Regions from separate parts of the Homo sapiens genome. Here all the other regions are linked to region 4. Evidence: fine-mapped expression QTL. A gene starts in region 4. Each other region holds a variant in brackets. All regions are shown on one strand. Distances are between the middles of the regions. Region 1 has its middle 21 kb from the start of LINC01226. Region 2 overlaps LOC124903900 (a long non-coding RNA gene). Region 3 holds the start of LOC124903900 (a long non-coding RNA gene). Region 4 holds the start of SERINC2 (serine incorporator 2).

The links. PIP is the estimated chance that this variant, and not a neighbour inherited with it, causes the effect. A credible set is the group of variants that fine-mapping cannot tell apart.
Region 1: its variant is the best candidate, but not a certain one, in a credible set for the expression of SERINC2 in whole blood (INTERVAL, PIP 0.70).
Region 2: its variant is the best candidate, but not a certain one, in a credible set for the expression of SERINC2 in whole blood (INTERVAL, PIP 0.87).
Region 3: its variant is fine-mapped to the expression of SERINC2 in whole blood (INTERVAL, PIP 0.93).

The regions. Positions count from the first base shown.
Region 1 is chr1:31,495,416-31,500,443 of GRCh38, forward strand. It overlaps the pseudogene RNU6-40P and the pseudogene LDC1P. Among named protein-coding and RNA genes, the nearest start is that of LINC01226, 21 kb to the right of the region's middle. The variant A/G (reference allele first, on the strand shown) is at 2,568.
Region 2 is chr1:31,446,840-31,451,867 of GRCh38, forward strand. The region is part of intron 1 of LOC124903900 (a long non-coding RNA gene); the gene reads right to left. LOC105378625 (a long non-coding RNA gene) reads left to right here. Exons shown (of 4, transcript XR_007065578.1): 1 at 1-1,622; 2 at 1,705-1,888; 3 at 2,062-2,617; 4 at 2,714-3,810. Among named protein-coding and RNA genes, the nearest start is that of SERINC2, 36 kb to the left of the region's middle. The variant C/CT (reference allele first, on the strand shown) is at 2,696.
Region 3 is chr1:31,467,055-31,472,082 of GRCh38, forward strand. It overlaps LOC124903900 (a long non-coding RNA gene), which reads right to left and starts at 4,422. Exons shown (of 2, transcript XR_007065585.1): 1 at 4,012-4,422. LOC105379772 (a long non-coding RNA gene) reads left to right here and starts at 4,064. Exons shown (of 3, transcript XR_001737618.2): 1 at 4,064-4,180. RefSeq lists an enhancer at 3,708-4,907. The variant T/G (reference allele first, on the strand shown) is at 2,438.
Region 4 is chr1:31,410,121-31,415,148 of GRCh38, forward strand. It overlaps SERINC2 (serine incorporator 2), which reads left to right and starts at 3,093. Exons shown (of 10, transcript NM_178865.5): 1 at 3,093-3,184. The coding sequence starts at 3,146. RefSeq lists enhancers at 2,841-3,341, 4,612-5,028 and silencers at 2,908-2,977, 3,058-3,117.

The DNA.
Region 1 (5,028 bases), 85 kb after region 4:
AGTGCTCTCATTGTTCAATTCCCACCTATGAGTGAGAACATGCGGTGCTTGGTTTTTCGTCTTTGCAATAGTTTGCTGAGAATGATGGTTTCCAGCTTCATCCATGTCCCTACAAAGGACATGAACTCATCCTTTTTTATGGCTGCATAGTATTCCATGGTGTATATGTGCCACATTTTCTTAATCCAGTCTATCATTGATGGACATTTAGGTTGGTTCCAAGTCTTTGCTGTTGTGAATAGTGCCACAATAAACATACGTGTGCATGTGTCTTTATAGCAGCATGATTTATAATACTTTGGGTATATACCCAGTAATGGGATGGCTGGGTCAAACCATATTTCTAGTTCTAGATCCTTGAGGAATTGCCACACTGTCTTCTACAATGGTTGAACTAGTTTACAGTCCCCCCAACAGTGTAAAAGTGTTCCTATTTCTCCACATCCTCTCCAGCACCTGTTGTTTCCTGACTTTTTAATGATCACCATTCTAACTGGTGTGAGATGGTATCTCATTGTGGTTTTGATTTGCATTTCTCTGATGGCCAGTGATGATGAGCATTTTTTCATGTGTCTGTTGCCTGCATAAATGTCTTCTTTTGAGAAGTATCTGTTCATATCCTTTGCCCACTTGTTGATGGGGTTGTTTGTTTTTTTCTTGTAAATTTGTTCGAGTTCTTTGTAGATTCTGGATATTAGCCCTTTTTCAGACGAGTAGATTGCAAAAATTTTCTCCCATTCTGTAGGTTGCCTGTTCATTCTGATGGTAGTTTCTTTTGCTGTGTAGAAGCTCTTTAGTTTAATTAGATCCCATTTGTCAATTTTGGCTTTTGTTGCCATTGCTTTTGGTGTTTTAGACATGAAGTCCTTGCCCATGCCTATGTCCTGAATGGTATTGCCTAGGTTTTCTTCTAGGGTTTTTATGGTTTTAGGTCTAACATTTAAGTCTTTAATCCATCTTGAATTAATTTTAGTATAAGGTGTAAGGAAGGGATCCAGTTTCAGCTTTCTACATATGGCTAGCCAGTTTTCCCAGCACCATTTATTAAATAGGAAATCCTTTCCCCATTTCTTGTTTTTGTCAGGTTTGTCAAAGATCAGATGGTTGTAGATGTGTGGTATTATTTCTGAGGACTCTGTTCTGTTCCATTGGTCTATATCTCTGTTTTGGTACCAGTACCATGCTATTTTGGTTACTGTAGCCTTGTAGTATAGTTTGAAGTCAGGTAGCGTGATGCCTCCAGCTTTGTTCTTTTGGCTTAGGATTGTCTTGGCAATGCAGGCTCTTTTTTGGTTCCATGTGAACTTTAAAGTAGTTTTTTCCAATTCTGTGAAGAAAGTCATTGGTAGCTTGATGGGGATGGCATTGAATCTATAAATTACCTTGGGCAGTATGGCCATTTTCACGATATTGATTTTTCCTATCCATGAACATGGAATGTTCTTCCATTTGTTTGTATCCTCTTTTATTTCATTGAGCAGTTGTTTGTAGTTCTCCTTGAAGAGGTCCTTCACATCCCTTGTAAGTTGGATTCCAAGGTATTTTATTCTCTTTGAAGCAATTGTAAATGGGAGTTCACTCATGATTTGGCTCTCTGTTTGTCTGTTATTGGTGTATAAGAATGCTTGTGATTTTTGCACATTGATTTTGTATCCTGAGACTTTGCTGAAGTTGCTTATCAGCTTAAGGAGATTTTGGGCTGAGACGATGGAGTTTTCTAAATATACAATCATGTCATGTGCAAACAGGGACAATTTGACTCCCTCTTTTCCTAATGAATACCCTTTATTTCTTCCTCCTGCCCGATTGCCCTGGCCAGAACTTCCAACACTATGTTGAATAAGAGTGGTGAGAGAGGGCGTCCCTGTCTTGTGCCAGTTTTCAAAGGGAGTGCTTCCAGTTTTTGCCCATTCAGTATGATATTGGCTGTGGGTTTGTCATAAATAGCTCTTATTATTTTGAGATATGTCCCATCAATACCTAATTTATTGAGAGTTTTTAGCATGAAAGGCTGTTGAATTTTGTCAAAGGCCTTTTCTGCATCTATTGAGATAATCATGTGGTTTTTGTCTTTGGTTCTGTTTATATGCTGGATTACTTTTATTGATTTGCATATGTTGAACCAGCCTTGCATCCGAGGGATGAAGCCCACTTGATCATTAAAAATATGGAACGCTTCACGAATTTGCGTGTCATCCCTGTGCAGGGGCCATGATAATCTTCTCTGTATCGTTCCAATTTTAGTGTATGTGCTGCCGAAGCGAGCACACAATCTGTTTTTTTAAACAACTTTGTTGAGATATGATTCATATACCATAAAATTTGACCTCTCAAAGCATACAATTCAGTGGTTTTTAGCATGTTTGCCAAGTCGAGCAGCCATCATCTCTATCTAATTGCAGAATATTTTCACCACCGCAGAAGGAAACCCTGTCCCCACTAGCAGGCCCTCCCCATTCCTCTCTCCCCTTTCCCCAGTCATAGGCAACCACAAATCTACTCTCTGTCTCTGTGGACTTGTATATTCTGGATATTTTATATAAATGGAATCATATGATCATATATAT[A/G]TTTATTTATTTAACTTTTTAAACCATTTCACTTTTATTCTATTGAGAAGTGAGGTTCCAAACAGACTTTACTTTCCAAACTGTTTACCTATTGTCCCAGCACCACTTCTCTGTCCCCTTCACCTTCTTTGGTGATTGGTGATATGTTCCAGTTTTTGCTATCAGCTCTGCTTCTGGGCCCTCAATTCTGCCCCATTGATGTTTCTGTTCAGGATACCTACAGGGTGTGAAGTCAGATAGGAGTTGATCTAAATCCCAGATCTCATATGTTAGCTGTGACATCCATTTATTAATTTATCCTACAAATATTTACTGAATTCTGTGCCAAGGCTTTTTTTTTTTTTTTTTTTGAGACATGGTATCTATTGCCCAGGCTGGAGTGCTGGAGTGAAGTGGCATGATCACAGCTCACTGCAGCCCCAACCTCCTGGGCTCAAGCCATCCTCCTGCTCAGTCTCCCAAGTAGCTGGGACCACAGGCGTGTGCCACCACAGCCAGCTAATTTTTGTATTTTTTTGTAGAGACAGGGTTTTGCCATGTTGCCCAGGCTGGTCTCCAACTACTGGGCTCAATCTATCCACCCACCTTGGCCTCCCGAAGTGTTGAGATTACAGGCATGAGTCACCACGCCCCGGCCCAAGTCTTAACCTAGGCACTGGGGACCCAGCAATGCAGATTTGGTCCCTGTTTTAAGCAGAGGGACCAATACAATCTGGCAGGGAAAGTTCCTATGGATAGAAACACAGACACAAACAGCAGCGGTGAGAGTGAGGCAGTTTGTATATATTTTCTTTTTATATCTTAATCTTCATAACTGGCCTTAAGGCCCCATTTTCCAGATGAAAAAACTGAGGTTCAGAGCAGTCAACTAACTTGCCTGTCGCAAATTCATTGCGAGTGGCACACCAGGCTTGGTAAGTGGTAAACAAGGCTGATGTCGAGCCCTTGGGATTAAGCCCTCTGCTATACCAAGGAGAAAGGGCCATAGAGGGCCAGTGAGCGAGAGGCAGGCCGGGAGAAAGGAAGAACAGCTGGTCCAAGGTCTCAGAACAGGTTCGTTTCTGGGGAAAGACCCCTATCTCTGCTGCCCCAGGCAGAAGAAGACTTGGGCCCTTTGAAAGGAAAATAAAGCCTCGGGATCCCCAAATCACTAAGCCAAGGGAAAAATCAGGCTGGGAACTATGTCAGGCAAACCCACCTCCCATTTTATTCCTAAATAAGATAGCTACATACCTCCCTCACAAACTGCCCACAAGAAAATTCGTTGTGGGCCTCAAGGTCTTTATCCTAAAACAGTTCTGTTGAATTTCACCCTGGCAATGTAAACTAATAGCTGATCTTCAGAGGTGCAGACAGAAAGTCATCCTTCTGCTCACCTGAGACAAATGCATATCTGATTGTTTCCTCTGCCCTATTGTTTACGTAAAAATGCAGATTCACTGAGTCAGATTAAATTGTGTATTCAGTGGAAGGCTGATCAAGGACTCAATGCAATCTTTCATCTCTTATCAACCTTTTGTCTCTTATGACCTGGAAGCACCCCTGCCGCCTTCAAGCTGTCCCACATTGCCAGACTGAACCAATGTACATCTTACACATATTGATTGATGTCTCCTGGCTCCCTATGAATCAAAGCAAGCTGTACCCCGACCACCTTAGGCACATGTCAGGACCTCCTGAGGCTGTGTGATGGGTGCATCCTTAAGCTTGACAAAATAAACTTTCTACATTGACTGAGATCTGTCTCAGATATTTGGGGTTCACAGCCCTGTCATCTCTGCCCTCCTCCCCACCTCCTGCCCTGGGCATGGCTGGCAGACAAAAACCTGGAGAGCAGCCCACTCCCTGTTGATTGTCCTTCACTGGAACAGGCAGAGGAGGTTCTGGGTCACAGCACAGAGGTGGGGTGTAAGCCTGCAGGAGATTACAGCTGATCCCTGCAGTGGGGCTGCCCCAAGGTGGTGGCTTCAGCCTGGGAGGGCCAGAAGAGCTCAGGTGAGACCTCAGCAGTCCACGTGGAGAGGGAGGGAGGGGAGAGGGTGGGGAGATGACTAGACCCTGAGTGACGCACACAGGCTCCCACTTCCATTCGAAGACACTTCCAGTGAGATGCTTAAATCTGCAGTGGAGGGCAAGAGACACGACCCCAGGAGACAGCAACTGGTCTCTGAGGCGGTGGAACCAGCTCCCTGTTGGAGTCTGAGGCCTTGGTCCTACTCCCAGTTTCACTCCTGGTTTGCTGAATGATCTGGAGATCTCTGGGCCCCACGGCTTTCCATCTGCAGAGCGGAAAGAGTGGATGGGAAGTTTCTAGGTTCCCTCCACTTCTCATCATTGCCGGCATTCGCTTATAACAGGGGTCGGACTCCTCTCTGTGCACCTGTCCTGCGGGCAGACCTAGGAAGGTACATTTTTCTGGCTGGGAGATTTGGGCTGAGCAGTCCAGGGTGGCCGAGGTTTA
Region 2 (5,028 bases), 37 kb after region 4:
TAAAATTGTGTTTGTGAATGTGTGGATGTCTCACACGGAAATCAGGCTACACCATGCCAGTGGCTGCTCAGAGAGGTGCAAGGGAGGACACTGTGACCTCCTTCACCCTGACTCTCCCCTGAGCAGAAAACCAGAATGTCCACTAGGCAGGTCTCTTCCTGAATTGGACCACAACAACAAAATCTTAACTTGGCTTGTGCCTAGGACAGATCAGCCTGAGCCACGCCCTCATCTTACTATACTTACAAGGCTTTTCTGTTCAGATCACCTAGGAACATCTGAATAAGATGCCACCCCCACTGAGAGTCTTTAGAACTTTCAGTAACCAAGGCAGGACAACTCATCTACTCCCTAGTAGGATCTGAACCCTGAAGTGCAATAGTAACCACAGGCGAGTAATGGGACTTTGGACAAATTTCTCAAACAAAGGAGACTCAGTTTCCTGATCTGTAAAATGGCAATGATAGTGCCTTTTTCATTCCTTCATTCATTCATCCACTAGCGGTGCGTCACACACCTATTCTATAGCAGGCCTTGTTTACACAAGGATCAGCAGCAGATGTCACACTTGCCATTAGGGGGCTGAGATCTGGTGGAGGAGGTGGACGTAAATCCAGTAGCCACACAAACGTGTACGTTGTAAATGTGTCAAGGGCCATGATAGAAAGATAGCCAATGTCACGCACTTCCGTTAGGGGTGAGCCGAGGTCCAAAGCAGGGGTATAGAAGTATCTTGTGATTTTAATCTGCATCTCCTTCATGACCACTGACGTTGGACACTGTTTCATATGCTTATTGGACTACTGAATATCCTTTTTTGCTGTGTGTAAAGTGCCTATTTAACTCTTTAGCCCATTTTTAAATTGGGAGGTTTTTTCCCTGCTGATTTGTAGCAGATACATGGGAAGTGAGTCCTTGGTGGATATATATTTTGCAAATATCTTCTCATAATCTCTGTCTTATCTTTTCACCCTCTTAATGTTGTCTTCTGATGAACAGTGATTCTTAATTTCAAAGAAGTCTAATTTTTAACATTTTCTTTAGTTTTTAAAATTATTTATTATTATTATTATTATTTTTGAGATGGAGTTTCACTCTTGTTGCCCAGGCTGGAGTGCAATGGCACGATCTTGGCTCACTGAAACCTCTGCCTCCCAGGTTCAAGCAATTCTCTTGCCTCAGCCTCCCAAGTAGCTGAGATTACAGGCACGTGCCACCACACCCAGCTAAATTTTATATTTTTACTAGAGTCGGGGTTTCACCATGTTGGCCAGACTGATCTTGAACTCCTGACCGCAGGTGATCTGCCCGCCTTGGCCTCCCAAAGCACTGGGATTACAGGCGTGAGCCACCGCACCTGGACTAAATCTTTTCTTTTATGACGCTTATTTTGCCTTTATTAAGAAAATTTTGCCCCCTCCAAGGTCGGATATTATTTTATTTTTTCTTCTGGAATCTTTATTGTTTTGTTTTTACGTTTAGGGATATGATTATGATGTATCTCATTACTTCTTGTTATAGTGTGAAGTAGAAATCAAAGTCCATGTTTTTCCATATCGACCCAGCGCTACTTACGGAAAAGACAATCCCTTCCCTCCCACAGGAGAACTGTCATCAATCAGGTAGTTGTATATGTATTACTGTGTCTGGGCTCTCTGTTCTGGTTATTGGAGGATTTTAAATGAGCCTCAGATTTTCCTTCAGAAATGCTCACTCTGGATGCATTGTGGACGATGGATTGGTGGCGGAGTGGATCCAGGGGAATGTGTAGAAGAATATTGGCAAACCAAGAGGAGATGATGGTGGCCTGGATGAGGGTAGTGGTCGTGGAGGAAGAGGATGGAGGTGAAATCAACAGGGCTTGGTGATGGATTGGAAATGAGTGGAGGTAAGCTGGTGAAAGGGAATGTCAACAGTTTATCCAATGGTGTGGCTTTGGAAGGTTAAATGGTGGTGTCATACAACATGATCCACATTAGCTGGTTTAGGTAGAAAGGAGTTTATTAGGGTGTTAAATAATTAAACATGTGTTTTTGGCTCATGGCTTTGTGTATCATTTAGGATGCTTTGAACTATAGCCAACAGAAAGCCCTATTCAAACTGGTTTAAAAAAATAAAGACTTCACCAAAGGCTGAAGAAACAGACTTTGAGTTGAAGTTTCAGGAATAACTCCCGGGACTAGGTCATCAAGAAAACTGCTGTAATCAGAAAGCCACCGGCTCCAGAATGCATCACAGCTACCACCAGGGAGCCGCCATTATCAGGAGGCTGCTACTAATGTGCCACACCATCACACCACGCCTGCCACAGTCCTTGGCAGCAGAATAAATGCGTGTTCATGTCTTATTCTTGATGTCCACTAAGCTAGGAAAACCACATCTTTACCAACTGTACGACAGAAAAACCAGATGTCTTCACAACTGTGTTGTTAGCAGAAATGGCAAAAACAACAGGAAGATGGCCTTCACCTTCCTTCCATTTTCTACATCTTGTGTGACTGAATCTGATTGGCTGAGTCTTAATTGTCAGAGTCCTGGCTGCCAGGGACCCTGGCATAGCATGCTAGAAGGAGGTGCTGACCCAATGTATCCATCACATCACATCAAACCACACAAAGTATGGTGATATTATGTTCTTTTCTGTCTTTCTTACTGGATGGAGTGGGTTCCAGGAGGGCAGAGTTCTATTAACCTT[C/CT]TTTTTTTTTTTTTTAAGACAGAGTCTCGCTGTGTCACCAGGCTGGAGTGCAGTGGCATGATCTTGGCATCTTGGCTCACTGCAACCTCAACTTCCCAGGTTGGAGCAATTCTCCTGCCTCAGCCTCCTGAGTAGCTGGGACTACAGGTGTGCACCACGGCACCTGGCTAATTTTTGTATTTTCATGTTGGCCAGGCTGGTCTCTAACTCTTGACCTCAAGTGATCTACCCACCTTGGCCTCCCAAAGTGCTGGGATTACAGGCACGAGCTACTGCATCTGGCCTCTATTAACCTTTGAGTCTGTCTAATGACTTGGTATAGTGTAGGTGCTGATTAAATGTTTGTTGTATGGATTGATTAAACATGTGTTTTGGCTCATGACCTTGTGTATCACTTAGGACGCTTTGAAGTATAGCCAACAGAAAGCCCAATTCAAAGTGCTTTAAAAAGTAAAGAAAATTTATTGATTCGTGTGACTAAGAAGGTCAGAGGTAGGTCTGGCATCAGATGAGACTTGATTAAGCTGTTTGACAGTGTCACCAAGAGCCTGATTTCTTGTCATCTCCCTGTTCTGACATCTCTGATGTTGGCTTTATTTTTCCTCTTCTTAATTTCAAATGCAAGACTTTATGACTAAACCTATAGACTTATAACAAACACCACATACCACATATGATTCTTCATAATAATCACTACCACTAGTTGAGTGACTTCTAAGTTTCAGACACTGTGATAAGCTCTTTATGTGACATGTCTCATTAAATCCTCACATAATTCTGTTAAGTACGTACTATACAATTTTCTCTTTTATAGGCAAGGGAACTGAGGCTTTAAAGAATATTCATTATTACAAAATGCCAGTGTTTTATCAGGCTTCAGTTCCTCCTTACAGAGGAAGCTACCCAGGAGAGCTAATGTGTCTATTATACATGTTCATTCATTCACTCATTCATTTTTTTGACAAGTATTTCTTTTTTTTTTCTTTTAGTTTTTCATTTCCATAGGTTTTTGGGGAGCAGGTAGTATTTGGTTACATGAGCAAGTTCTTTCGTGGTGATTTGTGAGATTTTGGTGCACCCATACGTAACCTGAGCAGTATACGCTGAATTTAATTTGTAGTCTTTTATCCCTCACCCACTTCCTACACTTTCCCACTGAGTCCCCAAAGTCCTTGTGTCATTCTTCTGCCTTTGCATCCTCACAGCTTAGCTCCCACTTATGAGTGAGAACACACGATGTTTGGTTTTCCGTTCCTGAGTTACTTCACTTAGAATAATAGTCTCCAATCCCATCCAGGTTGCTGTGAATGCCATTAATTCATTCCTATATGGCTGAGTAGTATTCCGTCATATATATATACCACAGTTTCTTTATCCACTCATTGATTGGTGGGCATTTGGGTAGGTTCCACATTTTTGCAACTGTGCTGCTATAAACATACGTGTGCAAGTTATCTGTTTCATAGAATGATTTCTTTTCCTCTGGGTAGATACCCAGTTGTGGGATTGCTGGATCAAATGGTAGTTCTACTTTCAGTTCTTTAAGAAATCTCCACACTGTTTTCTATAGTGGTTGTACTAGTTTCCATTACCATCAGCAATGTAGAAGTGTTTACTTTTCACTGCATCCACACCAACAACTGTTATTTTTTTATTATGGCCATTCTTGCAGAAGTAAGGTGGTATTGCATTGTGGTTTTGATTTGCATTTCCCTGATCATTAGTGTTCTTGAGCATTTTTTCATATGTTTGTTGGCCATTTGCATATCTTCTTTTAAGAATTGTCTATTCATGTCCTTATCCCACTTTTTGATGGGATTGTTTGCTTTTTTCTTGCTAATTTGTTTGAGTTTGTTGTAGATTCTGGGTATTAGTCCTTTGTCAGATGTATAGATTGTAAAGATTTTCTCTCACTCTGTGGGTTGTCTGTTAACTCTGTTGACTGTTCCTCTTGCTGTTCTAAAGCTCTTTCATTTAATTAAGTCCAACCTATTTATCATTGTTTTTATAGCATTTGCTTTGGGGTTCTTGGTCATTAAATCCTTGCCTAAGCCAATGTCTACAAAGATTTTTTCTGACGTTATCTTCTAGAATATTCATAATTTCAGGTTTTAGATTTAACTCCTTGATCTATCTTGAGTTGATTTTTGTATAAGGTGAGAGATAAGGATCCAGTTTCTTTCTCCTACCTGTGGCTTGCCAATTATCCCAGCATCATTTGTTGAATAGAGGGTCCTTTCCTCACTTTTTGCTTTTGTTTGCTTTGTTGAAGATCAGTTGGTTGTAAGTATTTGGGTTTATTTCTGGGTTCTCTATTCTGTTCTATTGTCTAA
Region 3 (5,028 bases), 57 kb after region 4:
TTAAGTTTTTAGCCAATCAGGTTTAGCTTAGACTGTGAGGTCCAGCTCCAACCAATGGAGATAGGACACAGCAGTAAGGACCCAATAAGGGATAAATATTCCTGCCTTTCTTTATTCAGTGTGCTTTCATGGCGAGATTGCTGATGAGTAGCATCCTTTCTGGAGAAAGTAAAATTGCCTTGCTGAGAATTTTTTTTTGTCTGAATGCTGGTTTTCCTTGCGGCACTGAGAAATAAGCATTTACTTCTAACAGCAAACTTTACTTTTGTGGAAAATCTTGTAAATTTGGGATTTTAATTAAAGAAAGGCTTTTCTGGTGTCCAGGGACATGGACAACAGCTATTTCTTTTGACAACTTAAGGTTATTTAATACTTGGGTGATTAATTCCTTGTGGACCAGGTCTTCACCTTTGCTATTAATAAGACCTCGTTCAGTCCAGCTGTTTCCAAATGTATGAGTCACTCCAAAGGCATACTTAGAATCAGTATAGATGGTCCTTCCTGGTTCTGTAAGTACTTTAAGGCTTGGCTGAGTGCAAACAGCTCACACATTGGAGCAGACCAATTATTAGGCAATTTTCCTAGCTCTATTTCTATGAGAGTTTCTCTGTTAATTACCGAATACCCATTGTGTCTTTTTCCCTCAATTACCCAGGAGGAACCATCTATAAATAAGTGTCGTCCTGTCCTGAAGGGAGTTTCTCCTAGGTCTGGTCAGACCTTTGTATGGTAATTAATTAAGATTTAGATCCCCTGTTAGGAAACCTGCTGGGTTAAGCAAATTATCAGTGGTGAATGTTAAATCATCTTTTTCTTACAGAATAGCCTCATACTTTAAGATTCTTGAGTCAGTAAGCTACATTTTTGCTTTTTGACTTAGCATAGTTCTGACCTGGTGAGGTGTGCTCACAATGAGGTTTCCTCTAAAAGTTAGTTTTCTACTTTATTCTCTTAGCAAAGCAGTTGCTGCTACAGACTGAATGCATTTGGGCCATCCACAGTTTACTGGGTTAAGGATTTTTCATAGGAAGGGTACAGGTTGTCAGTGGCCTCTGTGCTTTTGGGTATTTCTAAGGCTATGCCCTTGTTTACACTGACAAAAAGATGGAATGGCTGCTTAAGGAGGGTAAAGCTAGGATGGGGCAGTTACTAATAGATGTTTTTGCTTTGTTTTGTTTTTGAGACAGAGTCTTGCTCTGTCGCGCAGGCTGGAGTGCAGTGGCGTGATCTTGGTTCACTGCAAGCTCTGCCTCCCGGGTTCACACCATTCTCCTGCCTCAGCCTCCTGAGTAGCTGGGACTACAGGTGCCCGCCACCACGCATGGCTAATTTTTTGTATTTTTGGTAGAGACGGGGTTTCATCGTGTTAGACAGGATGATCTCAATCTCCTGACCTCATGATCCACCCGCCTCGGCCTCCCAAAGTGCTGGGATTACAGGCATGAGCCACCGTGCCCGGCCACTAATAGATGTTTTAACCTTTCCACCTGTTGGATTTCTGGTAATTGCCAAATGAGAGGGTTTGGCCCATCTTGCATGAGCTTTCTGTATAGGGTTTTGTTTTTAGGGCATAAGAATCTATCCATAGATGACAGTACCCAACTAATCCTAAAATGTTTTAAGTTCTTGTTTAGTCTCCAGCAGAGGGAAGGATATTATGCCTTCAATCCGTTCAAGCTCAATTTTCTGTTTATCTTTGCTAATTAAGTGACTTGTTCTAATATTTGACTAAATAAATTTGGAGACTCCGTAAACCCTTGGGGTAAGACTATCAGTATTGCTATTTTCAACCAGAGTGAGGGTCTTCTTATTCAAAGGCAAATAGGTCCCAGCTGTCTCTGCTAATGGACAAGCCCAGAAAGCATCTTTTAAATCTATTACTGTAAACCACTGGTGACTGTAATAGTATAAGGATTGGGAACAATAGGGTGGGTAGTTTGGATTATTTGATTAATAGCTCCAAGGTCTTGCACTAACTGGTATGACACGTCTGGCTTCTTTTTTTTTGATACAGAGTCTCACTCTATCACCCAGGCTGGAGTGCAGTGGCGCAATCTCAGCTCACTGCAAGCTCCGCTTCCCAGGTTCACACCATTCTCCTGCCTCAGCCTCCCGAGTAGCTGGGACCACAGGCACCTGCCACCACGCCCAGCTCGTTTTTTGTATTTTTAGTAGAGACGGGGTTTCACTGTGTTAGCCAGGATGGTCTCAATCTCCTGACCTTGTAATCCACGTGCCTTGGCCTCCAAAAGTGCTGGGATTACAGGTGTGAGCCACTGCGCCTGGCCCCCATCTGGCTTCTTTACAGGCAATATTGGAGTGTTATAGGGAGACACACAGGGTTTAAGAAGCCCAACACCAAGACGACCTTCAATTATCAATTATAGGTCTTAAATTTACCCTAGTTTTCAAAGAAATAGGGTACATTGCTTTCTCT[T/G]TACTACTTCCCCAGGTGTTTTTAATAGTTTTTTTTTTTAATTTAACATGAATTGGAGGAATCTGTAACTTTCCTTGCTTCCCATCTTTTGCTGTGGTGGTAAGTTTAGGGAAAGGAGGAATTTTCTATGATTGATTTCGAGGCCTAAGCCTAATTTTAGCATTAAATCTCTTCCTTATAGATTTGTCCCTGCTTCCAGAATTAGCAGAAAGTTAATATTAGCTGATTTGCTTTTACATATGACTTTATTCTTTTTCCCACTTGGGACATTCTTTTTTGAAGTGACCTATTTTTAATTTGAAGCATTTGTTTTGTCCTCTTTCCCTTTTCCTCTCCCTATCTCTCTCTCTCTCTCTCTGAATTCCTCTGTCTCTTTCCCTCTCTCTCTGACTTCCTCTGTCTCTTTCCCTCTCTCTCTCTCTGACTTCCTCTGTCCCCTCTGTCAGTCTTTCTCTCGCCTCTAAGATTTTTTTCTCTACCTTTGAGTCTCCTGGCTTTACTCTTTTGTACCCTTTATGTTGCCTGGAGAGTGGGGGTCTAGGTTCTTTATAGGTTCTTGCCCCCTGGGTACTTTGTTGTATGGTGGACAGCAGAATTTTTGCCCTCTGCTTTTGTTTTTCTTCATCTCTTCCTACATATACTTTTTGGGCTTCTCTTAGAAGCTCTTCTATAGGTTTATCTTTCTAGTTCCCTATCTTTTGTAATTTCTTGTTAATATCTGGCCAACTGTTAGTGACAAAATGAAGTTTTAACATTCCCTGTCCAAGGGGATCCTCGAGACCTGGACCAGTATATTTTCTCATTTATTCCTTTAATCTGTCTAAAAATTCTATAGGCCCTTAATCTTTCCCTTGCTGTATATCAAATGTTTGGGTAAGATTCTGGGTTCGGGGTACTGATTCTTTAATCCCCTTTATTATCAATTCCTTAAGGTCTTGCATATTTTCTTGGTTGGCTGCATTGTTATTGTCCCACCAGGGGTCTTGGGTGGGAAATTTTTGATCCGCTGTAGGAACGTTTTGGCCGGAAGCCGGGGGCGGGGTGTTCATGGTTCCTAGGCTCCCATTGCAGCCCTATGGATCATGCCTCTTTCTTCCCCTGAGAAGAGGGGAAAGGGAAGTTCTGAATATCCTTTTTACATTGCTCTATCTCGTGTGAAGTCCTTTTAGGGAAGGGTACTCAGGCTGGTCGTGAGTGGGCTCTTGGGAACATTCCCAAGAGGCAGAATTATAAGGAGAGGGACAACAGGGATAGGAGAAGGGTCTGGGACAGCAGCTGCTTTTTCTTGTTTTTGGTCCTTTCATTACCCTTCTAATATTTTATCATTAGGCTGAGCGGATTATTAGGGGGAATATTATCATTGCTAGTGTATCCTTTTTATCCCTTACCTTACTTGGGGTATTTCCCATTTTTAGTGTGAGGCTCAATTCCCCTTGCTAGAAATGTCTTGCCTATTTTTAACCCTCAAGATACCCCAACCAGGGAATACTTCACCGCCCCACCTCCTCCGTGTCTTTTCTTACCTTGATATGTCCTGATCAAGGAATACCACCACCCCCTGTGGCTTCTCTTACCTTGGTCTGTCCCAACCACCAAGGAAATACTTTGCTGGCTCCCAGGCGTTTCCTTCCTCGGTCTGTGCACAGAGTTGCCTGGTCACTGTGGTGTGTGAGGATCCTTTCCCCTGGGTCGCCGGCTGGTTTCTTTCGACATTGCTGAGTCCAGGTTTATTTGTCACACCAGGTGAGTCTCGATTCCTGACTCTTGAGGCCACCGCAACAAGGCAGTGGGGCGTGAGAGAGGAATAGAGGCCACCCCTAGAGGAGAATAGCTCCCCATATGGGCCACGAGATTGTTAGAAACAAATGCCTGTTCCTTGGTGCTGCAGAGAAATAGCACTTGAACATAAATTTAATTTTCTCAGCCAGGTAATTTTTACTTCTATAGAAGGGTGCGACTCGTGGTTGGAGTAATGGCGAAAGCACACCTGAACAAGGGGAGGGAAGCGGTTCGTATTCCTGGTGCAGGTAGTCCCTGCTGTTGTGTCATTCCCCTATTGGCTAGGATTGGACCGCACAGTGTAAGCTAATTCCGATTGGCTATTTTAAAGAGAGCAGGGGTACAAGCTGGAGTGACAGGGTGAGAAGTTTGGCGGGAGGGGTGGTTACAGAACAGTTGACTCAGGATGATTCAGGTCAGAGCAGGTGACAGGGGTGACTCAAGATGGAGCAGGTGACCAGGGGTGACTCAGGACAAAGCAGGTGACCAGGGGAACAGATGTGAACTACTGATTAGAACTGGCAGGAAACTTGTTTACTGAAACTAGAGGCAAGCGGGGCAATAGAACCAGGAAGTTAGACTTTAAAATGGAGAATAAAGAGAGCTGAACATACTGACATAGTGATTCTTTGAAAAGAAACTTGGAGTTCACGATCTTTAACAAGAATATCTAGTTCTTCCTGATTTAAGCCAGGAGGGTTGTATCTTTCCAGGAATTTATGCATCTCTGCTAGGTTTTCTAGTTTATGTGTGTAAAGGTGTTCATAGTAGCCTTGAATGAGTTTTTGTATTTCTGTGGTGTTGGTTGTAAT
Region 4 (5,028 bases):
GAATCCTGAATTCCAACCCTCCAGTGAGGCTCAGAGTGGTTGGGTGACTTGCCAGTATCACATAGCTGCTGACTGTGACTGTGCTTTTGGGGGTGCAAGAGACAGAGCTACTCTGGCCCCATGCAGGAGGTTCAAATCTGGGAGTAAAGGCTGATGGGCTGGCCAGGACACCAAGAAATGAAGCTCTTTATCCATGTCCTCACTTCATCTCCTCAGTAGTCCCCTCAGATAGCTGGGGTAAAAAAACTTATCTTTATTTTACAGATGAGAAGCATGAGGCTGAGAGAGGAGGAGTCACCCGGACCCAGCCACACAGTGAGTTATGCCTTCCATGCTGGGCGTGTGAGAGCCCAGCCGGCCTTGGTCTTGGGCAGGCAGGAGGCCAGGACAGTGGCAGCATATTACCTTGCTCTGGAAAATTTTAGCCTGAAGTCAGAGTGGCTATCCCTTTACACATACAGTCATCTTAATCCCTCGTTCCTTGCAGATAACTGCTTATTTCTGAGAGTGTCTTTGCAGATGCTCACACATGCTCTGTGAGGTTAAACAGAATAACCCTACCTATTTCCGGGAAGGGGATGGACGGACACCCCTTGTGGGGTGAAGTGGCCCCCCAAGGATGGCATGGGGCATGGTCATCTGTGGCAGAACAAGAATCCCAGGGGTTGATCCTCTTGGTCTTGGGTGCTTTCTACTGTTCTAGGTCATGGATAGGGAGGGGTTGGGGGTGAAAAATTCAGCTCTTAGAGCAGAAGTGTCCAAGGGAGCTGACCCTGGGACGGGAGCATGTGAGGAGGGCTCACTTGAGACTGCTTGGTGGCATTTCAGTCTAAAGGATTTCCGTGCAGAAGATGACTGTGTAGGGTATGTTTTTGGATCAGACTGTCAGTCACAGAAGAAGGAGGAAAGTGGACTTATGGTAAAAGGTCAGACATTCATCCAGTAAGCATTCACTGCTTGACTGTGTGCCAGGCCCTGTACTGTGCTCTGGGTAGGAGAGGGGGTGGCCAGAGAGCAGACCGTTCTTGGGTGGCTCACAGTCCCCTAAAGGCCTCGGGTTAGGGAAGGACTGAAATATTGCTGGACAGAAAAATAGGAAGACTAGATATTGTCACCTCTACTTTTTCAAGGGAAGCAGTAGGACATCAGGGTGAAAGCCAGGCCAGGTTGCCTTTCAGCTCTGTTTCTTCTGAGCTGTGTGGCCTTCAGCAATAGTAACAACAACCACAGTGATCACAGTCAACGTTTATTCGACGCTTGATTTACATTTCGCGTGTCACTACTTCTTTGTTTCTCGGTTTCCTCATCTGTAAACGAGTGGGTGGGGAATTAATCGACTTCTCAGGGCTGTTGTGGGGCTCAAATGGTACCACGGGGGAAAGTTGGGCATGTGCTCGGGTTGTTTGTGAGGCCATAAGGGAGGCCCATATTGTTTGGAGGCTTGGGGGAATCAGGAGGATGTTCATTCCTAATGGAACCAGGTAGTGGGTTGGGGGTGAGGGTGGTGGCTCTCTTCACTGAGAGGTATGGCATGTGAGCAAGCTTCAAAGGGGAGAAAGAGGGATAAGGAGAAGGACCTTTAAGAGGAGGGCATCTGCCAGGTGCAGTGCCTCACATCTGTAATACCAGCACTTTGGGAGGCCAAGGCAGGAGGATTGCTTAAGCCCAGGAGTTCGAGACTAGCCTGGACAACATAAGGAGACCTCATCTCTACACAAAATTTTTAAAAAATTAGCTGGGTGTGGTAGTACACACTGGTGGTCACAGCTACTTGGGAGGCTGAGGTGGGAGGATCACTTGGGTCCAGGAGGTTGAAGCTGCAGTGAGCCATGATTGGGCCACTGTGTTCCAGCCTGGGTGACAGAGTGAGACCCTGTCTCAAAAAAAAAAAAAAAAAAAAAAAAAAAGAGGAGGGCATTGTGTGGGCAAAAGTGCGGAGGAGGAAAAGTATAGGGTGTGTTTGTGGAACAGTCCTGGTGCAATTAATGGCTAAGCCTGGCGCCCAGTGAATCAGCCAAGGATGCAGTCAACCAGCTCTTTGGCCCTGGGGCCAGCTTCGAGGCACAGAGACTTCTTTCCCTAACATTATCTTGTCCAGAGGTGGCTGAGGACAGGGCTAAGGGTGAAGGGAGACTAATTACAGAGCCCTACTTCTGGGTCTCTCACACCTACCCCTGGAAAGCCATCTGTCAGGAATGTGGCCGCCCCTCCCCACCTTCTGACCTCCTTAGCTAGGGACCAGTTTGGGCATCCCTAGGGAGTGATAAGCCACCAAGCAGGGGTGGCTGTAGGGAGTGTGTAGCTCCCAGCAGGCTGTTGGGAGTCAGTGGAGTTTGAAGAACAGATGGAGAGAAGGGAGGATGGGTTTAGAGTGAGAGGCTGGGGTCTTAGAAGAAGCAGTAGGTGGGCATGGTGGCATGCACCTGTAGTCCCAGCTACTCAGGAGCCTGAAGCAGGAGGATCACTTGAGCCCAGGAGGTCGAGGCTGCAGTGAGCTATGTTTGCACCACTGCACTCCAGCCTGGGTGACAGAGCAAGACCCTGTCTCTTAAAAAGGAAGAAGAAAACAGTGACGATGGGGGCTTACATTTGTCAAGCACCTACCATGTGTTGTAACCACCCTGTGAGGTATGTATCCTCACTTTACAGACCGGGAAACTGAGGCTCATAGAGGTGCAGTGACTTGCCGAAGTTTCTTTATCCAGTCATTCAGCATTCAACCTCAGCATCTACGTATTGAGCAGAGGCCCTGCGCCAAGCACTGAGGAGTCAGCGGTGACCACCTCTTGGCTTCTGTTCCCAAGGGTGACAGTGTCCTGGGGTCACACGGGCTCAAACCGAGGTCGATTTCCGAACGCTCACTTTGGAGCAGGATGCGAGCCCGGGCCACGATTGGGTCAGGTTGCGCCGCTCGCGTGGCCGCGGGAATCCCCGACCGGCCCCTTCCCTAGGGTCCCTCCTGGCGCACCTGCCCCAGGTGAGTCTGGGGAGGCCCCGAGCGCCGCCGGAAAGCGTCGAGCGGCTTCGGTAGGTGGGGCGGGGCCGGGGCGGGGCCGGGGCCGGGGAGGGGCCAGGCCCGGCACCCGGATCCCGAGGTCCGCGCCCCGCGCCCGGCGCCGGGCGCCCGAAGCCGGGAGCCGCCGCCATGGGGGCCTGCCTGGGAGCCTGCTCCCTGCTCAGCTGCGTGAGTCCCGACCCCGGCGCCCGCCCGCGCGCGCCGCCCGTTCCTGCTGCGGGCCCTCACTTTCTTCTGTTCTGCTCCGAGTAGTTTCTTCTTTTTCCTTCCTGCAAACTTGTCTTTCTGGGCCGGTGCCCCGCCTGCTCGCCCTCCTGGACCTTCACTCGGCACCCGGATCCCGCTGCCCCCGTCCCCCTGCTCAGTCCTGGCCGGCAGGCGCCGGGCAGCTGCGGTCCCGGCTCGGGTTTCCGCGGGCAGGAGGGGAGTGCCCTCGGCGGGCGCCCTCCTGGGACCTGGAGAGACTAAGCCTGGAGCCCGGGGTCGGGGCAGCTCTGTGGGCCCTCGTCGCCCCACTTGGGGCGGTCCTCGGGGTGGCCTCTGTCCCCGTCCCGGACGCCCTGGTTCTCTGTGTAGGTCGCCCGGGCCCCGTCCCTCCTGGCGAGTGCCCTGCCCTACCCCTCTGGCCGCCTGCCAGTCCGCCTGTTCCTGTCGCTCGGGCTCCGCCTGTCCGTTCGTATTTGTCTGGTTCCTGTCTGTGTCCGTCGTTCGTCCGACTGTCTTTGTCCGTCTGCTGTCTTCTGTCCGTCTGCCCGTCCGCCCGTCCGTCCCTCAGTCTCTCTGCGGTCCCTTTACCGTCCTCAGTCTGGCTCGCGCTGCCTCTCAGGCACTTCCCCAGCTCGCCCCGGATCATCTGGGCCCCAGCGCGGAGACTGGGATGGGAGCGGAGGGAGCCCCGGACTTTCTTAGCTGCCCTCGAGTGAGGCGGGTGCGGGTCGTCACGGACCACCGGGCGGAACTCTGGGTTGGGAGAGCAGGAATCGAGGGAGGTTCGGGTGTGCGCGGGGAGTGCCCGGTCGCGGGTTCGGGACCTGTGGGGAGGCCAACCTCTGTTCTGTAGCTGCAGCCGCAGAGGGGAGGGGCTCCAGCAAGACCCCGGCTGGGAGGCCCGTTCTCCCTTCCCTTTCCCCAGCCCCCCTCTCCTTTCCTCTTCCCCTCATTAAATCTGAGGTTCATTCAGGCAGCCCCCTCCCCCTCTGGCCCCACACAAAGAGGCCCTGAGAGGGAGAAGGGGCTGCAGCGGCTGCTGAATCTCGGGACTCGCTTTCCTTTGTCCCTGACGGGTTGTGTGTGTGTGTGTGTGTGTGTGTGTGTGTGTGAGAGAGAGAGAGAGAGAGAGGAGGGGGTGTAGGGGAGAGCTGAGGGTCTAGAGATTTACTTTACAGCCTTTTTCTGAGAATGAGATCAGCATAGACAGCACAGAGAGGCAAGAGAGCCTCTCGCCTCATTAGGCCTCCATTTTTCGTGTGTGTGTGTGCGTGTGCATGTGCGTGTGCAGGAGGAGGAATCAAGCTGGTGCCTGAAATCCCTCCCAGCCCAAAGAATTCAAGGTTTGGGCCAGGTCTCTGCCAACAAGGGTTTGCTTCCTGGTGAGGGAGGCAGAGCTTCCACAGTGGACCTGATTTCCATCGGTTGCACCTGGTGAGGCACAGGCCCTGCTGGGCTGGCCTGGGGGTGGAGATGTTGAGGGGCAGCCTGCCAGCCCTGTGTGCCTTGGTCACCCCATCTGGCAGTTGACAGTAACAGGGCCTTTCTCACAATGCTGTTGGGAGATGAGGCACAGTTCCTGGCATATCGTGAGTGCTCCTTGTGGGAATTATTGCTAACATCAAGGAAAGGTGGGTGGAGAATTCCATTTGGAGACAATGCAAAGCCAAGTGCTGGTCTCTGAGTTACAGCATTCTACAATGCTGAGAGCAGATAGGACTGCTCAAACCATCTGTTTACAGATGAGAAGACTGCCACCCGCCCGGAGAAGATAGCTGACTTTCCTAAGGTTGCACAGGGAAAGG